Regions from separate parts of the Homo sapiens genome. Here regions 1 and 3 are each linked to region 2. The links come from fine-mapping of genetic effects on gene expression. A gene starts in region 2. Each other region holds a variant in brackets. All regions are shown on one strand. Distances are from middle to middle.

Region 1 (5,880 bases), 690 kb before region 2:
GAGTCTTGATATCTTGAAGCTCACTTTCATCTTCTGATGCAGCTCTCTCTATATTTGAAACATGATCATCTATATATTTAATGTGATTATCAAGACCATACTTATTTGAGTTGGGGGGTATGCCTTATTGTTCTCAGTATTCCTAGCACCTAATACCCTGACTGACACACAGAAAGTACAAAAAGGTATTTGTTGATGGTCCGGGCACGGTGGCTCATGCCTGTGATCCCAGCACTTTGGGAGGCTGAGGAGGGTGGATCACTTGAGGCTAGGAGTTTGAGACCAGCCTGGCCGATATAGTGAAACCCCATCTCTACTAAAAATACAAAAAATTAGCTGGGCATGGTGGCACACCTGTAATTCCAGCTACTCAGGAGGCTGAGGCAGAGAATCACCTGAACCTGAAAGGCAGAGGTTGCAGTGAGCCGAGATTGCGCCACTGCATTCCACCCTGGGCAACAGAACAAGACTTTGTCTCAAAAAAAAAAAAAAAAAAAATTGTTGATGGAATAAGTGAATTCATTTGCAGTAAGAATAACATAACTCATGAAATGCATCCAAAATACACATGTTGTTAATTTAGCATTACTAAAACTTCATGAAACCAAAATTCCTCTCATATATTCGGAAATGTAGCACAAAAAAGTGTTTTGATTAGTGAAATTATGTAGAAAAATATACCTAAAAAGGATATATTCAGAGATAGTCAGGAGTTATTTTCATTTTCTTCCATTATGGCTATTTATTTGTGCCAAAAAATTGCTGTTAGAAGTTGTTTTTAAAAATAGAATCTTTAAGTGGTACATTAAATCCAGCTGGCTTCAAACGGTACAGGGTGGTGGTGTTGGGGGGAGGGTCACAGATGGCCAGATCTCTAGGGAATTCTATGACCTCAGTGATGACTGACTAAAATTCCTGGACTTTTCCTGGACTTTTCTTGTGAGAGGAATTCTACAGTTGATAATTATTGATAATTATCAATTCTTGTTCCCTGATAGTTATTGTTATTACTTTTTATTGAGGTAAAATTCACATAAGATAAAGTTATTTTGAAGTGTGCAATTCAGTGACTTTGAGTACATTCACAATATTATACAACTATCACTTCTCTCTAGTTTCAAAACACTTTCATCACCCCAAAAGAAAACCTCATACCCATTAAGCAGTCACCCTGAGAATTATTTAATCTCTGGCTCCACATAATAAGCACCAATCCTATCAGCTCTGTAATAGAAAAATAACAGGAAAAGTATTTTCCTCCAAAAAGTATAAAAATTGTAACTTTAATAATAGGGTTTGCAAGGCCAGTCAAGGGCTAGCCTGTGATCCTTTGAGTGATGCCGTGGTGACCTCTGATGCTGAACATATGGGCATGGTCTGACCTCCAGATGGGCAGCAGGTGTATCTCTGCATAGGCCTCTGAGAAAGCTACCTGGGATGATCCTGGAAGACCAAAATGTCAACTGAGTTTTTAAGTGTATTTAAGGTTTTCAGACTTAAATGATTTTTGAATTGTCAAACACCACGCAAAGAGTAGATATGGTAAGTGATTAAAAAAGCACATTAAATATAAATGGATTGAAATGTGAAAAAAGCCACAAACACTACACACTGACAGCCTTTAGGAAATGCCTCTTTACAACCTTGACTTTCTTGATGAGGAATTTGTGCTGGTAAAGGGGCTTTCGTTTATTTAGGGGATGGACCGAGAGGCTTCCTGAGGAGAAAATCTATTTTAAGGCAAGACCATGAAGGAGGAGTTTGGGCTGGAAACAAAGGCTAAGTCACCAAAGGGGTGTGACCTTTCTGATTCCAGGGTTATATTGTCATTCAGATTACTTTCCTAGCCCAGATTCTCTTTGAGGTCATGTTTGGATGGGGTAGAGTAGGAACATGGTAAATAAAAAATTGAAAATGGAAAGAGCTGCTTATCTAAGAGGGAGTCCTAAACTAGGCTAAGGTAGCTTTTCCACTCAACAAAGATGTGTGGAAAGCACTATGTGCTGGGCATTTGTTAAACATGGAAGATACAATGGTAAACAGGACAGATATACTCCCTGTCTCCAAGAATTTTACAGTCTAAAGGTAGATATTTAAAATAGGACTACATAAATATTGACTACAATAAAGACTACAGAGGAATAGTTCACTAGGCAACGGCAGTGTTTAATGGCAGAACTCTAACCCAGTCTGGAAAGACAGGGAAGACTTTCCTGAGGAGACATTTCAGCTGAGATCTGAACAATAAAGGGTAGGGAAGGCAAGAGGGTGGGGGCAGTAGGCACAGTGTGTGTAAATGTTTTGAGGTGGGAGGAGCTGGAGTTTGAGGCCAGCGGGCTTAAGCATAGGGGCCAGTGAGAAAAGCAGCAGAACAGTTTATGAA[G/T]GAGCTGGCTACTTCCCTGCACTTGTGGACTGTTCTGCCAGCAAGCAAACCAGCCACAGGCAGGGCAGAGAGACCTTCACTGTTGTAAGGTTGTGGGGTATGAATTGAACTGGGGCCTTGAGGGGCTTGGTAAATGGATTAGGCAGGTGTCTGGTTACCCCTCTAGCTAGATGTACTAGGCCTTTTGTGTGGCCAGGTCACATGCCTCTGGCTTCTATGCAACATTGTCCCAAAGACATGGATTCAATCCCTTCCAGAAACTCCAAAATTATCCTGGACTCTGGATCAAGTCTCAGACCAGGAACCACAGCTAAGGCATGTGGTACTGACAGGGTTGGCCTACTGCCTGGTTAAAAATTTTGGCTCAATTCGGGGGCACATGTGTTTGTTCATCTGCATGGGAAACCCCTCATGACACTGACTCTTCTATTGTAGGAAGGATGCAGCCATGCTTGTGCTTTACCTAGCAGAAACATTTTACCAGGAATGAGCTGCGTGAAGAGCCATACATCTCTCAGTCACATCAGGGCCAGGCTTCCTATCAGATATTTGGGCAGAACTTCTATGAGTAGGGATAGCACCTCCAACCATCCATAGCTCCAGGGAGCCTCAAAAGTTGTCCATCTTGTTTAGAGCACTAGCACCTAGCACATGCACCTAGGTGCATTTTAGGAAATCAAGAAATATCACTGTAATGGATGAGTGGAGGTAGAGCACAGAGCAGGCAGTTCTGCTAAAGCAGTTCTCAGCTAACCCAAAAGATTAGCATTCTTTGCTTGCAGAGATGTGAAAAGCCAGCAGCTAAATCAGTGAGTCTCATCCCTCCCTGAACATATACATTACATACATATAAGTTTTATTTAAGGTATGTTTTTAAAATATATTTATAAAGAAATTAGGCTGGAAGTAAATATGCCCAAATATTAAATTTTTTTTTTTTTTAGACAGGATCTTGTGTTGTCTCCCAGGCTGGAGTGCAGTGGCATGATCATAACTTACTGAAGCCTTGAATTCCTGGGTTCAAACGATTCTTCCACCTCAGCCTTCCATTTAGCTGGGACTATAGGCGTGTACTACCATGCCTAGCCAATATTAATTTTTTGACAATAGGATTATGTATAGTTATCTTACTCTATGGATATACTTAATCTATGGATTTCTGTATGTTACTTAAAAAAAAAAAGCTTTACTGAAGTATAGCTGGCATATAATAAAATGCATATGTTTAAAGTCTCACTATGAAAAATTTTAACACATTAATACACCTGTGAAAACATCACCACAATCAAGACAGTGAATATATGCATCACTCTCAAAAGACTCTTCTTATCAAAATACACAGACATAAAATTTACCATCTTAACAATTTTAAGTATACAGTTCAGTGTTATTAAATACATTCATAAAATTATGCACCATCACCACCATATAACTCCATAACTCTTTTCATTTTGTAAAACTGAAACTCCATAGCCATTAAACAATAACTCCCATTCCCTTCTATCCCGAGCCCATGGAAACCACTATTCTACTTTCTGTCTATGATTTTGACTATTCTAAGTTCATCTTGTCCTTTTTTAATGCCACCTTCTTGCCCCACCCTCACCCCATCCCCAGACAACCACTGATTTGTTTTATATCACTATAGATTAGTTTTTGTTCCTTAGAATTTCATACAAATGGAGTTATAATGTACACTTTCTGTCAAGTCTGGCTTCTTTCATACAACAGAATTACTTTGAGATTCCTCCATGTTGTTGTTTGTATCAATAATTTATTCCTTTTTATTACTGAGTAATAGTGCATTGTATATATACTTAATTTGCTTATTCATTCATTGTACATGGACATTTGGGTTGTTTCTAGTTTTGAGCTATTACAAATAAAGCTGCTGTGAATATTCATGTATAAGTCTTTGTGTGGGTGTAAGTTTTCATTTATCTGAGGCAAATACCTAGGAGTTGAATGGGTCATTTGGTGGATGTATGGCTTAACTTTTTAAAAAGCTGCTAAGCCATTTTCCAAAACAACGATAACATTTTACATTTTCATCAGAATTGTATGAGAGTTCCTGTTGTTCCATAACCTCTCCAAAACTTAGTATGATTAGTCTTTTTAATTTTAGACATTCTAGTGGGTATAGGTATATCATTGTGGTTTTAATTTGCATTCTGTAATGATCAATGATGATGAACATCTTTTTATGTGCTTATTTGCCATCTGAATATCTTCTTTGACAAAAAGTCTGTTCAAATATCTTATCTGTAGGTTTATTTGTGTATGTGTGTTCTTATTGTTGAGTTTCAAGAATTCTTTATGTATTCTAGATAGAAGTCCTTTATTTGATATGTGATATGCAAATATTTTGTCCTGTCTGTGTGGCTTTTCACTCTCTTTGGTGTCTTTCTATCAGCAAAATGTCTCAATTTTGATAGAGTTTAATTTATCAAAATTTTTAAATGGATCATCTCTTTCATATGGTATCTAAGGAAGCTTTGTTTAGCCCAAGGTTACCAAGATTTTCTCTTAATTTTTCCTTACAGAAGTTTTATAGTTTTAGTTAAGTTGAGGTTGATGCCTAGGAAAATAACAACAACAACCAAAAAGAACAAATTTAAAAACAACAAAAAATAAGTTTCATATTTTAGGTTTTATATTCAGGTCTATGATCAATTTTTAGTTGATTTTATTTATGGTAGAAGGTATGGACCAAAGTTCATTTATTTGCAAATAAATGTCCCATTGTTCTAGTACCTTTTGTTGAAAATGACTATGCTTTTTTCCTGAATTGACTTTGTACTTTTGTTAAAAATCAATGGACCATACATGTGTAGGCCTATTTCTGAAGTCTCTATTTTATACCATTGAACTATTTGACTATTTTTATGCCACTATCTTTAAGTCAGACAGTATAAGTGTGCCATTTTTGTTCCTTTTTTTTTTTTTTCCAAATTGTTTTGGCTATTCCAGGTCCTCTGCATTTTTATGAGTTTTAGAGTCAATCTGTCAACTTTTAAAAAATCTGCTGAAATTTTGATAGGGGTTGCATTGAATTTATAGATGAAATTGGGGATAATTGATGTCTTAAAAATATCAAGTCTTCAATCATTTGGGTATTGGTTACTCCAAGCCAATTCAATCAGAATCTCTGGGGACAAGACAAGCCATTGTATTTTCTAAGAAATTCCCCAGGTGCTTTTAATGTACAGCCAGAGTTGTGAACACTGATCTCTGGCATCTGTCTTGCAGGCAGCTCTGACTGCTTAATGCTCCCAAAGGAAATGAACTATATTGAATAACACAAGGCATAATTGAAGGAAATAGTGACACTGAGCTTAGAGAAAAACTTTCAAGGAGACATGGACTTGAAAGGCTATCATACAGGAGAGGAATTAGACTCTTGCAAACCCAACAGACAGAAACTTCAGGGAATCAGACATTATCTTAGCCCAAGGAGGTACTTTCAACAGTCAATGATGTCCTCAGAAACAATGGGC
Region 2 (5,880 bases):
CAGCTTTTCATGAACCAGAGCTTTCTAAGAGCTAAGAGGGAATGATGAATGAGTTCTGCCCCTTAATTCTGCAAGTGAGGAAACTGAGGCTCAGAAGACCATATGAACTCTCCAAGCTGCAGGATAACAGCTGGGACTTATCAAGGGCCCAGGGCTTCTCACATCTTCACCACTTCCACCATGTCAAGGCCACCATCACGTCTTGTTTGGAATGCTATAGGAATCTCCTAGGTCCCATTTTTACCCTCCCTCCTATCATCCACCCTCTCTCCAAAGGCCACTCCATACAGCAGCATGTGGATGAATCTACAATAGAAGGCAAACTATGTCCCTCCTTTGCTCAGAAACTTTTAATATCTTCCTATTTCCCCATGTAAAAGCCAATCCTCAACCACAGTGTAGAAGGGCTATCCATTTCTAGCTACACATCTCCTCAGTCACTGCCCCCAGCCCCAGTACTTGGGGACTTTGCCCTTGCAGTTCCCTGTGCCAGCAAACTCTTCCTCCAGATGTCCACATGACTCACCCCCCTCCTTCAGGGGTCTTCTCAAATGTCACTTTACCAGAGGTGGCTTCCCTGACCATCCTGTATAAATAGCATCACCCTACCTCCTATCTCTCTCTCTACTGGCTTTTTAATTATTTTTATTATTATTGAGACAGGTTCTCACTCTGTCACCCAAGCTGCAGTAGAGTGGTGAGATCACAGCTCACTGCAGCCTTGACCTCCTGGCTTCAAGTGATCCTCCCACCTCAGCCTCCCAAGTAGCTGGGACTACAGGTGCACACCACCACACCCAGCTAATTTTTTTTTTTATTTTTGTAGAGACAGAGTCTCTCTGTGTTGCCCAGGCCTGTCTCAAACTCTTGGCCTCAAGTGATCCTCTTGCCTCAGCCTCCTATATTGCTGGGATTATAGGCATGAGCCACCGCACCTGGCCTTATTACTTTTTCCTAACACTTTTGTCACCCGACATATTTTGTTTATTGATTTCCTTTGCCCACTAGAATGTAAGCTCAGCAAAAAAGTAGCCTGCTGGATCCCCAGTGCCTGGTATACAGCAGGCACTCAGTATTTTGGTATAATAAGTGCTTACTATGTCCCCAATACTGTTTTAAGGAAGGTATTTACTTAATCTTCCCAATAACCTGAGATAGGCATTATTATCATCATTGTCATCTCTGAGTCACAGATGAAGAAACTAAGGCACAGAGAAGTTTAGTAATTTTTCCAAGATCACACAGCTAGTGAATAGTAGAGCCAGGATTTGAACGCGAGACACCGGCTCTTTAACCACCATCACATGTAGTGTCACCCTTATTGTGTCACTCAGTTAATGATAAAGAACTACTGCACTTTAATGCTTCTTCTCTATACCAGACTCTCAGAAATTGATACATACTAAAGTATGCTTTCAAATGTCAATCATTTCCTATAAGTGCCTAACATTTTAAAGTAATAAAGTGTGATTTTGAGCTAAGACTGGTAAACAAAGTGTGCTGCAGCCACAAGCGTACTGCGCTTTAGCCTCTATCTAGTTCAAGAACCACTTCCAGAGGATATGAGTGAGGCTTACAGGCGTGTGCAGGTAATTCTCCCTGCTCAACTGAGATTACCATCATTAGCTCTGGTCCATAAAGGGAAAACTAAGACACAAAAGCCACATTGATGTTCTAGGCCACACAGCCAATTGCAGTGACTAGAAGAAAGAAGCCTCCCCGGGCGGCGAAGGTTGCAGTGAGCTGAGATCGCGCCACTGCACTCCAGCCTGGGCCACAGAGGGAGACTCCGTCTCAATTTAAAAAAAAAAAAAAAAAAAAAAAAAGGAGCCTCTGAGGGGCCCTCTGGGACTGCAGTAGGTCACACATGCTCCCTGCTTATTAGCATAGAACGCCCCGGTGATTCATGCAATGGAATGTTTCAGCCAAGGATGTCACCTAATAGAGGATATGTTGATACAGCTTTATCTGAGAAGTTACATAATCGTCCTAGTGTGGAAATGCCATAAAGGAATTTCTGGCTTGAATAAAAGAGGTGTGTATCCCCTGGGAAGTACTCCACAAAGGGTATGAGGAGATTTTCAGTGAGAAGCTGACTACCCCAGACTGGGCAAGTGACTTGTTAAAAACAGGGCTCAATGGAGGCTCTCTGAGGACAGTGACTGCGCCCACTTTGATTTGGTAAGGCTTTGACTCCTGCTCGAGAGAGTCCAGGGACCCCTAGACCTGCCTGTCCTTCCACAGGGAAGAGCGACCTTTCTGTATCTAGCCTCCTGGGATAGAAAGGTCCCTACCTTGAGTCCTCTCTGCTTCGTTCTTTCAGGTCACACATTTATTTCTGCAAGCCTTCAGACCTTCCATTCTCTTTCTGCCCTAGAGAGCAGAATGAATCCTTCCCCCGATTTTGTTGGAATTCTCTGAAAGAAATCCTGCCAAGTCTCCCACTCTGGAATACCACCCCCAGCACCCAATCTTCCCTCGACCTCGCCTCCCATCGCCCCACCAGCGCCCAGGACGTGGCAGGAGGAAGGAGGCTGGAGGGAGGGGCGCGGGTGGCACGAGCACCTGTCACCTGACCGGCTCGGGCCCTCACTTCTCCAGCCCCGGCCCTGCCCACCCTCTGGCCGGTGAGAGCCGACAGGGCCCCCGCCCTCCCGGACCCGGACAGGCCCGTCCCTCCCGCCCCGGCCTCCGCCACCGTCCAATGGCCGAGGGGCAGGGCCCGCTGAGCAAGCCGCGGCAGCCCCGCCGGGTCCCCGCCCTGTTCCCGGTTCCCGAGCCGGGCCCCGGAGGCCTTTAAATGCTGCCCAGGGCCGACGCGGCACGGCCCTCGCCACTTTTCTTGGTCGGGCAGCGGCAGCGGCAGCGGCAGCAAGCAGCCCCGTCGGCCCGGGTCCGGGGCCGTTCTGGGCCGCGGCAAGCACCTTCGCCCTCCCAGCTCGCGCTGCCTCCCTCCCCTCCCCTCCTCCCAGGCTCTGCCTGCCAGGTCGGCGCCGGGCCCCGGGCGCGCGCGCGCGCGCCCCCTCGTGTGTGCGCGCGCCCGCCGCCAGCTCGGACCCGCGCCCCCGCCCCCGCCCCGCGCAGGACAGCCCCGGGATCCCCGCCCGCGCGCCGCGTCCCACGTACCCCGCCGCGCCGGGCAAGAAGATGGCGGGATCAGTGGCCGACAGCGATGCCGTGGTGGTGAGTGTGGCAGGGCGCGCGCGAGGCGCCCCTCCCCGCCGTCCCGCACTCCGCCGCCGCCTGCTCCAGCAGTGCTGGGGTGCTGAGCAGCCGCAGGCCCGGCCGGCGCCCGGCGCGTGGGAAGGCGCCCGGTACCTGTTAGCAGCCGCTGGCTGCGCGCGGCCGGTGTTAGGGGCTGGAGAGGCTCCCGGGCTGCGGGGCTCTGGGCTGGGGAGGGAGTTTGGGGAGGATGGCGGGTAGGGACGCCCGACAGCCCCCTCTGTGCCGTGCAACCGCCAGCCAGGTGTGCGCGTGGGTGAGTGTGTCCGGGGCGCGCGCCCCGCCACCGCCCCCGACGTACCGGGGATTCCCCCTTGGAAATGGGTCGGCGCCCGGGGCTCCCGAGAGAAGTTGAGCACGGCCGCTGCACTTCAGTCACGTCCCGAAGGACAGGCCTGGCCCACCGCGCTTCCAGAAGCGTTTACGGTTGGAGAGGGGCCTGCCCTCCTCCGGCGTGGGGCTCTGGCTCTTCGGTGGACCTCGACCTTGATTTTGATCTGGATCTGAAGGGTCTGCGGATCTTCAGAGGCTTAACTACCGGGTGGAAAGGATGGGTTTTGTTCGGGGGTGATGAGATTATCTAAGAGACGGTGAAGAGGCATCATCTGCAGACACTGTGTGCATGTGGAAGGCTGCTGGATTCCACCACATCTGTGTGGGTTCTTCCTCCAGCCCCCCAAAAAAGAGCCCATGGAAAGCCAATCTGTGTACTTCTATTTTTAGAAACTAGATGATGGCCATTTAAACAACTCTTTGAGCTCTCCAGTTCAAGCGGACGTGTACTTCCCACGACTGGTAAATGATTTTGCTCTGTGTCTCTGCCTGTACCTTCCTCCTTTCTCATTGCTTTTTAAAATTTTATTCATTTGTTTATTGCATTTTCCAGTGGGTCAGGCCTTCAGGGTCTGAGGTCTTGGCTTTTCCCTAACAGGCTGTAAAATTCATTTTTCTTCTCCCACCCTTTTCAGATAGTTCCATTTTGTGGGCACATTAAAGGTGGCATGAGACCAGGCAAGAAGGTGTTAGTGATGGGCATCGTAGACCTCAACCCAGAGAGGTAAGGCAGAGTCTTTGTCAGGACAGAACTATCAGGCTGTGGCTGAGCCCTGCCCACTTCTGTTGTGGTTTAGCACTCCTCTTCCTCTCCTTGTGGACAGTGTTGCTAGTTGCCAGTGCCAAGAAAGTACCATGTTCCCATGAAACGAATATGTATGAATCCCAGCCATCATTTCTCCAGACAGCTATTTATATCAGAGATTATAAATATAGGCCCACATTTTCTCTTTGACCCTTAGGGAGGCCAGAGGATTTTTTTTTTTTTTTTTAATGGTTTTGAAACATGGTGCCAGGAGCAAGAACTATCAAGATGAATAAGAACCCAACTTAACATTATTTCCCCTGGTCAATTTCTGTGGCTGTTTTTGAGAATTCCGAAGTGGAATTCTCTAATTTTAGTCATTTTCAACACCAAAGTTTTCACCAGAGCTTGCTTTAGGTAACAAAATAAGCTGGTTTGACTTACTTCTCCATAATCTAACCTCTCTTGAAGAGTAGTGGCCTCTTAAAAATGGACAAACCCAGAGGAGGAAGAAGAAATATAAGCACTTGGGTCATTTTGAAATGTTTTTATATCCAACCCTTAATCAGTGGGATGATTTTCTTTTCAGCTTTGCAATCAGCTTGACCTGTGGGGACTCAGAAGACCCTCCTGCCGATGTGGCAATCGAACTCAAAGCTGTGTTCACAGATCGGCAGCTACTCAGAAATTCTTGTATATCTGGGGAGAGGGGTGAAGAACAGTCAGCAATCCCTTACTTTCCATTCATTCCAGACCAGCCATTCAGGGTGAGTACCTCGAGTGCCTCGGCTCCAGCCACTGGCAGGCTGATAATGTTCGACTTACCTAGTGTGTGCCAAGAACACTTGAAGCAGCCAGAATTTCTGCATGTCCAGGAAATTTGTCACCCAATGGTGAAAAAAAAAGATCAAAAGAGCTCTGTTTGCTGATATAAATTAACACTTGCCATAGTATCTTCTTAGTTCTATTCAGGTCATACATTTAAATAGACCCATATTTACATGTCCAAATTGTTAAGAATAAGTAACTTTTCTATGTAGTACCCAACATATAGTAGATACCTACCCCCAAATATCTGATTGATTAATCAATACTAAGTACCCACTTATTAAATATTAATATTAATAAGGTTGAGAGCTAATAAGTAGCTCTTTTATTTGTATGACATTTTAAAGAATATGATGATGATCATTTCATTTTCTCTTGTTCCCTTTGCTAATGAGGCCATGTTCGTGTCCTTGTTTCCCCCTCTGGATTAATTAGCCTCAGTCTATTTCATGGTTACAGGCTGTGTGGCTGACAAATTCCTTCCCTTGGGGCTGGATGAATAAAGATTTGCTCCCCACTATCTTCTGGGCAGGAAGCACAATCCAAACTTTTCATCCAATCAAGCAGCATTAGCAGCCCCTTCCTCTATGAAAGGCAATGCCAAATAAGAGATGCAGGTAGTGGCACAGTGGCTTGTGCCTATAATCCCACCACTTTGGGAGGCTGAGGCAAGAGGATTGCTTGAGCAAAGGAGTTCAAGACCAGCCTAGGAAACACAGCAAAAACCCTGCCTTTAAAAAAAAAAAAATTAG
Region 3 (5,880 bases), 23 kb before region 2:
GGTTTTCTTAACCATTAAAAGATGTTAAATGCTCTCAAATACTGTTTCCGCAGCAATTGATATAATCATGTGATTTTTTATTTCTGTCTGTTAATATGATATATTAAACTGATTTTTGGATATTGAACCACGCTTACATCCCTGGAATAATCCCCATTTGGTCATGATGTGTAACCATTTTTATGTTGCTGAATTCTATTTGCCAGTTTTTAAGGGATTTTTGTATCTATCACAGGAGACATTGTTCTGTAGTTTTTTTTTTTTCACTGTTTTGTCTTGTTTGGGTATATGGTAAGAGTAACTTCATAAAATTAATGGAGATATATTTCCTCCTTTTGCATATTCTGGGAGAGATTGTACAGAATTTGTATTAATTCTTCTTTAAACATCTGGTGGAATTCTGTGATGAAAACGTCTGGGACTGGAGATTTCTTTGGGGAGAATTTTAAACATTTCTAATTTAATGTCCTTAAAGTTATAGGGCTATTTAAATGATCTATTTCATATTGAGTGAGTTATAGTTTTTTTTCAAAGTGTCAGTCCGTTTCACTTCAGTTGTCAAATTTATATATGTAGAGTTGTTCATAGTATTCCCTTATTATCCTTTTGATGCCTTCAGGGTCTTCCCTGAGGTCTTCAGAGATATGCCATTTTATTCCTGATATTGATAATATGTGCCTTCTCTCTTTTTTCTTTGTAAGTCTTGATAGAGGCTTGTCAATCTGATTGATTCCTTTAAAGAAACAGCTTTTTGTTTCATTGATTTTCTCTATTGCCTTTCTGTTTTTGTTTTTATTAATTTCTGCTCTTATCTTTACTAGTTCATTTCTTTGTCTTGTTTTGGGTTTATTCTGCTCCTCTTTTTTTAAGTTTGGTCATGGGAGCTTAGATTATGTATTTGAGACTTTTCCTCTTTCTAATGTATGCATTAAATTTCCCTCTCAGCATTTCTCTAGCTATGTCCCACAAATTTTGACATGTTGTATTTTCATCTTCATGTAGTTCAATGTATTCTTGTTTCCCCTTGAGACTTCCTCTTTGACCCATGGATTCTTTAGAAGGGCTCTTTCATCTCCAAGTTTAACAGAAATGTTATTTCCAAAATAACAGAAAGTTTTCCTTTCTGTTATTTGTTTTTAATTTTATTCCATTGTGTTCAGACAACACACTGTATGATTTACTTATTTTAAATTGTTGAGGTTTGTTTTATGGCCCAGGATATGATCTATATTGGCATATGATCCACATGCACTTGAAAGGAATGAATTTTCAGCTGCGTTTGGGTGAAGTGTTCTTCAAATGTTGACTAAATTCTGTTAGTTGATTGTACTGTTGATTTTTTTTTTTTTTTTTTTTTGAGACTGAGTCTCACTCTGTCACCAGGCTGAAGCGCAATGGCACAATCTTGGCTCACTGCAACCTCTGCCTCCTGGGTTTAAGTGATCCTCCTGCCTCAGCCTTCTGAGTAGCTGGGACTACAGGCATGCACTACCACACCCAGCTAATTTTTTGTATTTTTAGTGGAAACGGTTTCATCATGTTGGCCAAGCTGGTCTCGAACTCCTGACCTCGTGATCCACCCGCCTCAGCCTCCCAAAGTGCTGGGATTACAGCATAAGCCACCGTGCCCAGCCTTGTTGAGTTCTTTTACATCCTTGCTGATTTACTCTCTGGTAGTTGTATCAATTGTTGAAATAAAGATATTGAAGTCTCCAACTATAATTGTGGATTTGTCTATTTCTCTGTTCAGTTCTATCAGTTTTTGTTTCACATATTTTTCAGCTCTGTTGTTTGTTGCATACACATTTAGGATGCTATGTCTTCTTGGTGGATTGACTCTTTTGTTATTATCAATATTCCCTGTCTCTGGTAATTTTCTTTCTTCTGAAGAGTACTGTATTTGATATTAATATAGTTAATCCTTCTTTTCTTTATTTAATATTTACGTGATTTTTTTTTCATCCTTTCAGGTTCACCCTATATCATTTTATTCGAAGTAAGTTTCTTCTAGACAGCATATAGTTGGGTCATGTTTTTAATTCACTCTGGCAATCTCTGCCTTTTAATTAGTGTATTTAGAAAACTTACATTTAATGTAATTATGGATGTTTTAGGGTTTATGTCTGCCATTTTATTTTTTCTCTCTGTTTTTCATCTCTCTGTTTTTTCCCCTCCCTTCTTTTGGCTTACTTGAATATTCTTTAGAATTCTATTTTGATTTATCTATAGTATTTTTAGTATATCTCTTTATATAGCTTTTATGGTGGTTGCTCTAAGTGTTACATCATATACATATAACTTATTATAGTCTACTAGTATCATAATTTTAATAGTTCAAATAAAGGATAAAAACTTTACCTTCCTCTAGATTT[C/CT]TTTTTTTTTTTTCTTTTTTGAGATGGAGTTTTGCTCTTGTCACCCAGGCTGGAGTAAAATAGCACGATCTTGGCTCACTGCAACCTCCACCTCCCAGGTTCAAGCGATTCTCCTGCCTCAGCCTCCCAAGTAGCTGGGATTACAGGCATGTGCTACCACACCCGGCTAATTTTTGTATTATTAGTAGAGACGGGGTTTCACCATGTTGGCCAGGCTGGTCTCAAACTCCTGACCTCAAATGATCTGCCCACCTTGGCCTCCCAAAGTGCTGGGATTACAGGTGTGAGCCACCATGCTTGGTCTAGATTTCTTTACTCTCCCACATTTACAATATGATCATCTTAAATATTCATACATTTTAGAACCATATTATACCGTGTTATTATTTTTGCTTCAACCATACAATGTAATTTGGAAAACTCAAGATGAGAAGGAAAGCCTATTATATTTACCCATATGTTTGTTTATAGCGTTCTTCCTTCTTTCCTTCCTGATATTACAAGTTTCCTTCTTTTGTTGTTTCCTCTCTATTTAAAAAACTTTCTTTAGCCATTTTTTTATGGTAGGTTTGCTGGTGACAAATTCTCTTAATTTTCATTCATCTGAGAATATCTTGATTTTCATTTCACTCCCGAAAGGTAGTTTTGCAAGATGCTGGGTGGATGGTTCTTTTCTTTCAGCACTTGAAAAATGTTGTACCACTTCCTTCTGGTTCTCCTGATTTCTGACCAGAAATCTGCTGTCATTTTAACTGCTTTCTCCTCTAGGTAAAATGTCCATTTTCTCAGCCTTCAAGATTTTTTCATTGTCTTTAGTTTTCAGAAGCTTAATTATAATTGTGAGTTGGTGTGAATTTCTTCAGATATATTCTGTTTGGGGTTCACTCAGCTTCTTGAATCTGTAGGATTATATCTCTTGCCAAATTCAGAAAGTTTTCAGCCATTATTTTTTAAAGTACATTTTTAGCTCTGTCCTCGTCTTATCTCCTTCCGGGGCTCTGATGACACAAATGTTAAAGCTCTTGTTTTAGTCCCACAGGCCTCTGAGACTGTTTCTTTTTCTTCCAGCATATTTTTCTCTCAGTTTTTCAAACAGTAATTTCTGTTATTCTTTCTTCTACCTCACTGATTATTTCTTCTATCTCCTCCATTCTGCTGTCTCCTTCATTCTGCTTTTCACTAAGTTTCTTGTTTTCATTCTGTATTATTCAGTTCATTTAGTTCTTCTTTGTATGCTTCTATTTCTTCTATTTCTTTCCTGTGACTTTCTGTTTCTTTGCTGAGGTTTTCAACTTTTTCATTTGTTTCAAGTGTGTGCATGATTGCTATTGCTGCTTTTATCATGGCTGCTTAAAATTTGTCAGATAATTCTAACATCACTGTCATCTCATTGTTGGGTTCTATGAATTGCCTTTTTCATTCAGTTTGAGAGCTTTCTGGTTCTTGGTATGATAAGTGGTCCTGGATATGTTCATATTATGAGACTGGATCTTAACTAAACTTGGTTCTACTGACTTTTTCTGATACAGTTCTGGTAGGTGAAAGAGAGGAATGCTGCCTTATTCTTCCTAGGTGGGGGTAGAAGTCCTGGTTCCCCACTTAGCTAACAAATAGTTGAGCATGGAGGGCATCTTTATTGCTGCTGGGCAGGGTGGGAATTCTAGCTCCTCACATGGCCATTAGACACAGTGGTGGAGATGGCCCATTGCTGCTGAGTGATGGTGAAAGTCCTTACCATTCACTAGGCCCCCTCTGATACCATCCCAGCAAAGAGGGGGAGAGGTACCTCATTACTGCCAGGTGGGGATAGAAGTGTTTAATCAAGGTCACAAAGTTAGTGAGTCATGAAGTTGGAATTCAGGCCCAGGCATCTTAGTCTCCAAAGCCCAAGGTATTAACTACACCATCAAAATGCTGTGAGCTGTGATTATAACTACATACAAATATTTGTATATATATATCCAAAGACTGGAGAGTTATAGAGAGATGGGAAAAGTAATTCAACTAGAGTGATGAAATATGACCACCTTTTTTTTTATTTTTTTGAGACGGAGTTTCACTCTGTTATCAGGCTGGAGTGCAGTGGCATGATCTCGGCTCACTGCAACCTCTGCCTGCCAGGTTCAAGCGATTCTCCTGCCTCAGCCTCTTGAGTAGCTAGGACTACAGGTGTGTGCCACCATGCCCGGCTAATTTTTGTATTTTTAGTAGAGACAGGGTTCACCATGTTGGCCAGGATGGTCTTGATCCCTTGACCTCGTGATCTGCCTGCCTTGGCCTCCCAAAGTGCTGGGATGACAGGTGTGAGCCACCGCGCCCGGCCATCTCGTCCCTTCTTAACATTCCTTGACTGCTCCCATTTGCTTCTTCTTTTGCTTTCTTACTGACTTCTGAGATTTGAAATGCTACTTTCTTATTTGCTTCTGAGATTCTGGCGTAGTAAAACTTCCTTCAAGCAAGGAATAAATTCTACTATCCACATACCTGAATGGGATCAAATAATGGCATTACATACTGTTTTGTTTCTATTTGAAAGTTAAGTTATTTAAATTCAATAGTTTTCAATAACATTCAAAAGCTGAATGAAGTGAGACCTCTGATTAACAATCTTGCATCTATTTGTAAAGTCTCATATCATCAGCCACTCTAAAGTATCTTAATGCCAGAATATTTGTGCTGAATATTTTCCATGTTTTTTTCCAGATCCACTTACCTTTCTTTTTCATTCCACTTAGGGCTTCAGGTGGCTGACCTTTGTGGATTGCATTAACTGCCTTCTGGCAGTTGGGCTCAACTAATTGGATGCCATGCCAAGACACAAGAGGGTGAGTGGAAATCATCAAGGCCAGGATACTCATTTCCTTCCTTCTCTACTAGGTCATCATGCGTTAACTGTCTCCCATTCAAAGGCCACAGCTCCTGTCTATCAGCCCTTTCATACAACTATCTGTCTGAGTCCATTACCTTGCGTCCTCCTATGACCTATTCAGGCCTAGAAGTGATACCATTGTTGCCAACCCTGGAATACTGCACCATTCCTTGTTAGTTTTCCTTAACATGACCACACCTTTGTAAACGCTCCCTTTGTTGAACACGCCTCACCATGTTCAAGACTAACATCTTAACTGACAGAATATCCTATCCAATTCTTCCATTTTCTTTCAACACTCCAAGGGCAACTCCCATAAGTCTTTCATTTTTCAAAGTAAACAAATGTTTCATCAACAAGTTAACCTTTGTACTAATATCAATAATACTCTGAGATGCAATCAGTAAAACAAATATTCAATATTTAGCCTAAACTGTTATTTTAAAAAACAACACACAAATTAAGCAACAATGAACTTAGTACATTGCCAGTCAGTTCCCATTATACTGGCAAAAACATAAAAAATGACATTACTAGTTGGTGAGGAGATGGTAAAGCTGGTACATATACTTGAAGTATATTCTTACTTCAAGAGGTATAATCTTTGAAAACTATGTTAATTGGTATAACCTTTGAAAA

Direction of the effects. Positions count from the first base shown, and alleles are read on the strand shown. Sizes are in standard deviations (SD) of each study's normalised expression. Not every link is listed here.
With allele C in place of CT in region 3, the expression in skeletal muscle of the gene that starts at base 2,764 in region 2 is higher (moderate effect, 0.47 SD a copy in FUSION).

What was found. PIP is the estimated chance that this variant, and not a neighbour inherited with it, causes the effect.
Region 1: its variant is the best candidate, but not a certain one, in a credible set for the expression of LGALSL in whole blood (INTERVAL, PIP 0.52).
Region 3: its variant is the best candidate, but not a certain one, in a credible set for the expression of LGALSL in skeletal muscle (FUSION, PIP 0.58).

What each region holds. Positions count from the first base shown.
Region 1 is chr2:63,763,024-63,768,903 of GRCh38, forward strand. It overlaps a transcript of WDPCP not described here. Among named protein-coding and RNA genes, the nearest start is that of UGP2, 76 kb to the right of the region's middle. RefSeq lists an enhancer at 2,337-3,152. The variant G/T (reference allele first, on the strand shown) is at 2,384.
Region 2 is chr2:64,451,399-64,457,278 of GRCh38, forward strand. LGALSL (galectin like) reads left to right here and starts at 2,764. Exons shown (of 5, transcript NM_014181.3): 1 at 2,764-3,183; 2 at 3,946-4,017; 3 at 4,191-4,279; 4 at 4,890-5,067. The coding sequence starts at 3,148. LGALSL-DT (LGALSL divergent transcript) reads right to left here and starts at 3,480. Exons shown (of 3, transcript XR_002959392.2): 1 at 3,127-3,480. RefSeq lists silencers at 2,521-2,940, 2,951-3,020, 3,111-3,410.
Region 3 is chr2:64,428,862-64,434,741 of GRCh38, forward strand. All of the region lies in intron 1 of LGALSL-DT (LGALSL divergent transcript), which reads right to left. Among named protein-coding and RNA genes, the nearest start is that of LGALSL, 22 kb to the right of the region's middle. The variant C/CT (reference allele first, on the strand shown) is at 2,373.